2 linked regions of the Homo sapiens genome follow. The protein of the gene in region 1 interacts with the protein of each later gene in a biochemical or structural test. Each region holds a gene or a part of one and is shown on either strand. Other genes may lie near its edges.

Region 1 (3,241 bases):
AATACCAATCAGAAAGATGTATGTTGTTCACCTCCCTAAACAATCAAAGGGAATGGATTGCTTATGACCATCTCACTTCCAGCCATCTACATGCATGCTGCCAGCCAGCAGGAGAATACACCAGGAAGAGTGCATGCTGATGGGAACAAGTGTCAACACAGTTTCCCTCCAGTTTATGAAGGGGCTACATCATGACAGTGGGCCAGCAGAGAATTCCAGCTCCCTCAAGCTTGTGATACCTGATTTCTTTTTCCTGTCAGCACATTAAATTGTGGTGCCAAAGCACTCACAGGTACAGAGTGAGAGTTCCACATGGGCCAGCTATGGCCACTGTTATGGCCACTGACAAGGTGTGCAACCCTAAAACCATCAGACTTCCCACTGTTCTTAGTCAGAAGGACCAGAGTGGTGCATGGATCTGTACAAATACAGCCCAGGCATGGAAAAACATAAGCCATCCCTCCCAACAACTGTGGGCAGCTGCCGTTTTATGTGCCAAGACTCACACTGGAGAGGCGTGATGGAGCTGTACCGGAAGGGGTGTGTCTGTGGCCAGGGTCATTTCCTCCTGAGGACTCCAGACAACAAATGTGTCCTATCTGCTTCCTCTCCACTCCTCCCGCCCCTTCCAGGAGAGGGTCCTCTCTGCAAGAGGATTTTCACCTGGAACCTGACTCAGTTAATGCATAGTAATAATAATAATCAAAGTGCATGCACAGTTTCAGAAATTTACTATATTAATCAACACACTGAAAACATTTTGATTCCTAAGCAGCTTTGAGTACCAGTTTTTTTCCAGGACACATTCGGAATGATGCAGGTGGGGATCTGAAGAAGACTTTCACAGTAAAACTTTCCCCTCAAGGTCGAGCCTTCCATAAGCTGGTCCCTTTTAGGAAGATGGGCTGTCAGGGAAAGAAAGACATAGTAACATTCTGACTGTGGGGCTCCATCCCATTCCTCTCTCTTTCCCACTTCTTCTTTAGAAATAGCATTCCAGTACAAACTCTAGGTGGAGGAACACATGAAACTGTTTCTTCTCAGGTGCATTAATGATACATTCCCTTCTCTACTGACTTTGCACCTTCCAACTCCTCATTGCTGTCTTCGAAGAGCAGGAAATGCTCTTTATAAACAGATTTATAGCCCTTTAAGCCATCCAATACAGATTGAAAGAAATATCATCACCACTTTTAACTAAAGCATTCTGTCTTGCAGGAAGGTATCATCAAGATTCTAGTGTGCAGATTTAGCCTCTGTCTAAACGTACCACATGAGAAGCTTAGAGCCTCAAATTGTTCTTTGTGTAAGCGTTTTCTTGTCATTGATTGGTTGGTTCATCTCCCCAAATTAGGAGACAATTTTTCCATGAGTAAAAGTCCACATTAAAAGTGGAGTCATTCTTATCAGTAGAATCAAAATGAGATTATTATTGTCCCCTGATCCTTTCTAAAGTTCATAACTTCTTTAAGGAAACTTTAAAAAATATTTTGTTTGGCCTGTTCATGAAACTTTTGATAATTTTATCTGCTCCAATCCACCTTATATGAGCTCAAATAATCATATTTAAGATTTCAAGAGAGCACCTATGTCTTCCATACACCAGTTTCATATAAATGCATTGCACGTTCTAATACAGTAGCCTTGTGGAGATGCATGTCTTGTGGGATCACAATTGCGGGGCTCAGGGGTCTTTGTGCTGGTAGACTTTGAAGGCTCTCATCCTACTTTCGTACCCCTAAATTGTTGACTGCTTCATAATGCTTCTAGGTACTAGGAGCTTTAGAGACTTTGCTTTACTCCCGTTGAAAAGCCACTGTTACATTTTGGTGTCATCTGTTTCATTGACTTCTGACAAGATGAAGTTGGGGTTGTCATAGCCTCTCTTCATCCTGGCTCTAACATCTTTCTCATTATAAAGGCACATGGCACAGTGAGGGGTCTCCACTTCCACTGTCTTGCTAAAGTTATGGAAATCCACTCGGTATTTCCCTTCCTTTGTCTTGGATACTATGGGAGCAAAACGGTAGCCCCAAAGCACCTCCTCTGGGACATAGGATGTCCGGACTTGGCAGGTAGCACTGGTGGACTCCACTGTGCCATCTAAAAACACCACTAATTCAAAGTCCTGCTGGAGAAGGGTCTCCGCTGCCATGTGGAAGAAAGGGCTGTTGTGATCAATGACATGGTAAATTGTCAATGGGGAGATGAAGAATAAATTTTCATTCCCAGCGTCAACTACAAAGTTGATATTGATCTGGTCCAAAATAATGGTCTCTCCTTCAGGAGTGACTGTGGTCTTCAGAAGCTTTCCATAAATGTGACTGCCAATAAGAAGGCTCTTCCTGAGATTAGCCACTCGGATTAGGAGGCAAAGCTTCCCTCCCCGTTTGCTGATCACTGCGTTCTTGCTGAACGTAATGGTCTTGGCACGTTTTTTGGGCCTGGAGATCTTGGCTAAGATGGCCCCACACATGAAAGAATTGATTATAACTCCAAGTATAGACTGAAAGATAAGCAGAAAAATGGCAGTGGCACACTGTTCTGTCACACACCTGAATCCATATCCAATGGTCACTTGAGTCTCCAGAGAAAACAGAAAAGCTGAGGTCAAGCCATTAATATTCTCCACACAGGGAGTGTGATTGGCAGAAGGATGGAATTCCGGGAGGTCTTTGTGAATGTACGCTACTGCATACCACAGGAGACCAAAGAAAAACCAACTCCCCAAGAAGGCTGTGATGAAAATGGTCATTTTGTATCTCCACTTGAGGTCAAGTACCGTTGTCCAGATGTCCACAAAGAATATAAACCTTGACTGTGCCTCCACATTGCCAAATTCTATGTTGCACCTTCCATCTTTGGAGACTAGCCTTGCTCTTTGCCGAGAATGCCCAAAAAAGCGAGTGACGACCCATTTCCGAAGATGTTTGAACATACTTTCTGTCAACACCCTGATCTGAAAACACATCAAAGAAAAACAAAAAAGGATTATGTTTATAGCAATAGTGAACTAGGTGACCCACATGAAAGACCTAACTACGAAAAGATCATTCAAAATTATCTGGGTTACTAATCATTTGGCAAGCTGACAAGTTTATTCTGGATACCACAATGCTATTTCTGATAGAAACTTTCCACTGGAAGACCATGTTACTCAAACATAAAGAGGCAAAATAATTACAGAGAGCTAGAAATGAAGACAAACTAAGTGATTATATATTCAAGTGTTTCCTGACCT
Region 2 (3,500 bases), on another chromosome or scaffold:
AGAAGTCTTACACTGTGATTTTAAAATGTTTCTAGTGAATCTCATAAGCTGTGCTTCAACCAGAGCTTTCACAAACCTCTTTAAAAGTTATTTCTAGTACCAATTTTCCTTTTTTTAAAAAAAAAACAAAAACTTCATGTACCTAGTACCCATTTCAAATTTTTATTTTGATGAAACAAATTCCTGAGATTAAGGAAATCAGCGAAGCAAATTATACCTAATTGTTGATTCAGGTGAATGAAAAACCAAGTGGAACAGTTTTGATAATTAGTTACCAACCTTTCATTTAAACAGTGCTTTTACTTTCTAAAACATATTTCTTTGTAAATTTAACGTGTACTGAGAGAAAAGACCTCTTCATTGTCAAGTTAGTTTGCCATACTATAAATCCTGGAACAGATTTAGAGAAGTTACTTAAATTATAAGCGTGTGCCACAGTTGCCGGCACCTGTCCTGTTGAGTCTTCTGTCTGCTCCCTCCCACCCCAGATCTGTTCTCCATACAGCAGCCAGTGTGATGTTTTTAAAAATGTCAATTAGATCACACCACTCCTCTGTGCAGAACCCTCTGTTTCCTTCCCATTCATCTCACCCAAAATAGCATGCAAAATCCTCCCGTGATCTGAAAGGCCCTCCATGGTCTGCCTCACAACTCCCTCTCTGATGGTGTCAGAGAGATCCTACTTCGTGATCTCCTATCACAATCTTCCATGTGCATCCCATCTGCAGCCTCACCAGCCTCCTTGCTGTCAGGTGTGTGTTGCTACAGGGACAGGTACAGCTGGTTTCTAACCCTGGTATACATTCCACAGATAGTTAACAAGCCTCTGTCTTCCTCATGACATTTGGGTCTCTGCTCAAAGATCTTATCCAAGCAGGCTTTGTGACTCACCTATCTAAAACAGGTATCCCACGCACAGACACAGAAACGGACATTCTCTTCCCTTAAGCTTTTTTATTTATCTTCGTATTACTGTTTCCACTTGACATGTTTTGTTTTTTTGTTACATGTTTCTCAGTAGAACTAAAACATAAACTACATGAGAGCAGAGATTTAAAATCTTTGGTTCACTTTTGTGTCCCTAATGCCTAGAACACTGCGTGGCACATAAAGAATTCACTCAGTAAGTATTTGTTGAGATAATGGCTGAAAGACAATTTTGAAATGCTGGTTAAATGTATAGCACAACAATACAGTTCTCATCATGACTGTGCAGCTCTAAAACATCATCTGCTAACAGGTGATGACTTATGTCCTTAATATTATCTTCATTTTATAAGTGAGAAATTTAAGGTATAGAGAGGCTAAATAACATCTCTAAAATCGCATAGTAAGTGATAAGAGACAGGGTCTCTAGGTTTGCCTCATTCAGCCTCGTCCCAGAGCACAGCTCCAGGGAGCACGCCATTTATATGGAATGCCTGTGAAGAGCGCCCCCTGGAGGCATGCGATGCAGGGGCTTTTTTCCTTCTCTTTTTGCCACCAACCAAGGCCATACTTGTAGTCCCCCTGGTGTCCCATGGGTTTATGAAAAGAGTTCTCCATCATTTTACAATATAATATGCTTCTCTTTGAGTACTAGTTGAGTTTTTCTTTTCTACGGGAACATTTTTAAAGCTGTTGAGGACTGTTGTTTCTTTTCTACGGAAACATTTTTAAAGCTATCAATTGTAAAGCTATTGATAGCTTTAAAAATGTTTCTTGAGAAAACACTTAATTGGATAGGTGACACTAAAAGCTTTTTTAAAAAGTTCCACACAGCTTATGTTTTTTTTTATAAATCGGATATATTCAAGTTGTCAACATTGTGGGGAATCTCAACCTAAATTGTACCCATATTCATATCTATACCCCTAAGGCCAAGCTCAGCAAATAGTAGACTCCTGTTGTAGATGGAATCTTATACATCATCTAGAATAGATATTTTATAGAAGGCAACTGATGACGAATGATTGTTTTATGAAGTTTTAAAATGTAAAAAAATCTTACAACCTGTGGCTGTTTCACAGGCCCATGCGATCTTATCAGAACAGTGGCATCATATTTTCTTCCTACATAATAACAACAATATAATCAGATTACATTGGAGTAGTAAAAAAATGTGCTGGATATATCTGTTAATATTTCTTCCTAGTTATGAAGTATAGAAATAAAACAATTATGTTATTAAAGAGAAGATTTTGGCTAAAATAGAAAATAAAGATCTGTATAATTCTATATACATATAGATTGATGTAAATAAATAATTTTATTTACTAAGAATAAAAGTACTCTCTAATTAGTTCCTATCTTATTTGACTTTCGCCCTCCTTCCCCCGCTGCTCACCTTCTGCTGTGCGGCCCAGCTCCTAACCGGCCATGGACCAGTACCAGTCTGCAGCGCAGGAGTTGAGGACCCCTGCTATATACTAAGGTTGCAGGAGGCATACAGGCATACAAAACAAAATGAATACATTTTGTTTTTAAATTTGGAATATTACTCATTAACAGTATTTTGTTTACTGTTCCCACCCCCCACTTTATAAAGCTGCATAGTAAGTCCTGAAAATAAATTTCAACTTCTTTTATAAGTAAACACAAACCTCAACAATGTGAGCTGTTCATGAGTAATCTCACGGTGAATAGCAGATATTACAATGTGTTCTAAAATCCTGACTTCCTACACTTCTCTAATTTATACCACTCATTACTAGTAATACAAAAATGCTACGACTGTTACCTACACTCAGGGTTTCATCTTAACTTTCTTTCTCCATAGTTTTGTCATATCTCTTAAGACTCCTCCTCCATCTTACCCCAACATTGGCTGCGTGTGTGCTCAGTTGAGGGTTAGCCCTAAGTTAAATTGAATTTGATGGTCACAGCCTTATTGGCACTGCCATATCAAGATGATTTAGAAGTGTTAGATTTGGTAAGATATAGCTGGATTACATTGTCCATACAGGGGAACTTAGCTCCCTGAAATTTACCCAAAGGGAAGAGGTGACCATTCCCTATACCCAGTTTCTCCCTTTGGGAGCTCTGGGCTCAGTGCCAGTGGTGATATGACAGGACGATGCAATGAGCACCCAGCCCTTCTTTAATACTAATTCAGGCTGAGTCTTAGCAAATAGTCTGTTTATAAAGAGAAATCATATACTTTATCATCTTACATCTTTTATAAAGAGAAATCATGTACTTATCATCTTTATATGTCTTTTTCATATATTGGCTTTTCCCAAAAATGTGATGCCATTGGTACTTAAGCTTAGAGATTTTTGCTTCCACTATTTGAGTAACGATGTGAGGTAATTTAAAAAATAATAAAATAGTCCGGGTGCAGTGGCTTGCGCCCGTAATCCCAGCACTTTGGGAGGCTGAGGCAGTCAGATCACTTGAGGTTGGGAGTTCAAGACCAGCCTGGCCAACACAGTGAAACTCCATCTCTACAAAAAAAAATACAAAAATATTAGCTGGGCGTGGTGGGGTGCCTGTGAGCCCAGCTACTTGGGAGGCGGAGG

The links.
Region 2: the proteins of KCNJ1 (region 1) and ARHGAP21 interact in a test that uses a peptide from one of them, tested with the Homo sapiens proteins (one large-scale study listed by IntAct).

Annotation. Positions count from the first base shown.
Region 1 is NC_000011.10:128,837,306-128,840,546, forward strand, and holds the end of KCNJ1 (ATP-sensitive inward rectifier potassium channel 1), read right to left. Parts: intron 2,960-3,241; coding exon of another isoform or gene 2,939-2,959; coding exon 1,820-2,938; 3' UTR 715-1,819; downstream 1-714. UniProt on the Homo sapiens protein: Inward rectifier potassium channels are characterized by a greater tendency to allow potassium to flow into the cell rather than out of it.
Region 2 is NC_000010.11:24,615,888-24,619,387, reverse strand, and holds part of ARHGAP21 (rho GTPase-activating protein 21), read left to right. Parts: intron 1-3,500. UniProt on the Homo sapiens protein: Functions as a GTPase-activating protein (GAP) for RHOA and CDC42. Downstream partner of ARF1 which may control Golgi apparatus structure and function. Also required for CTNNA1 recruitment to adherens junctions.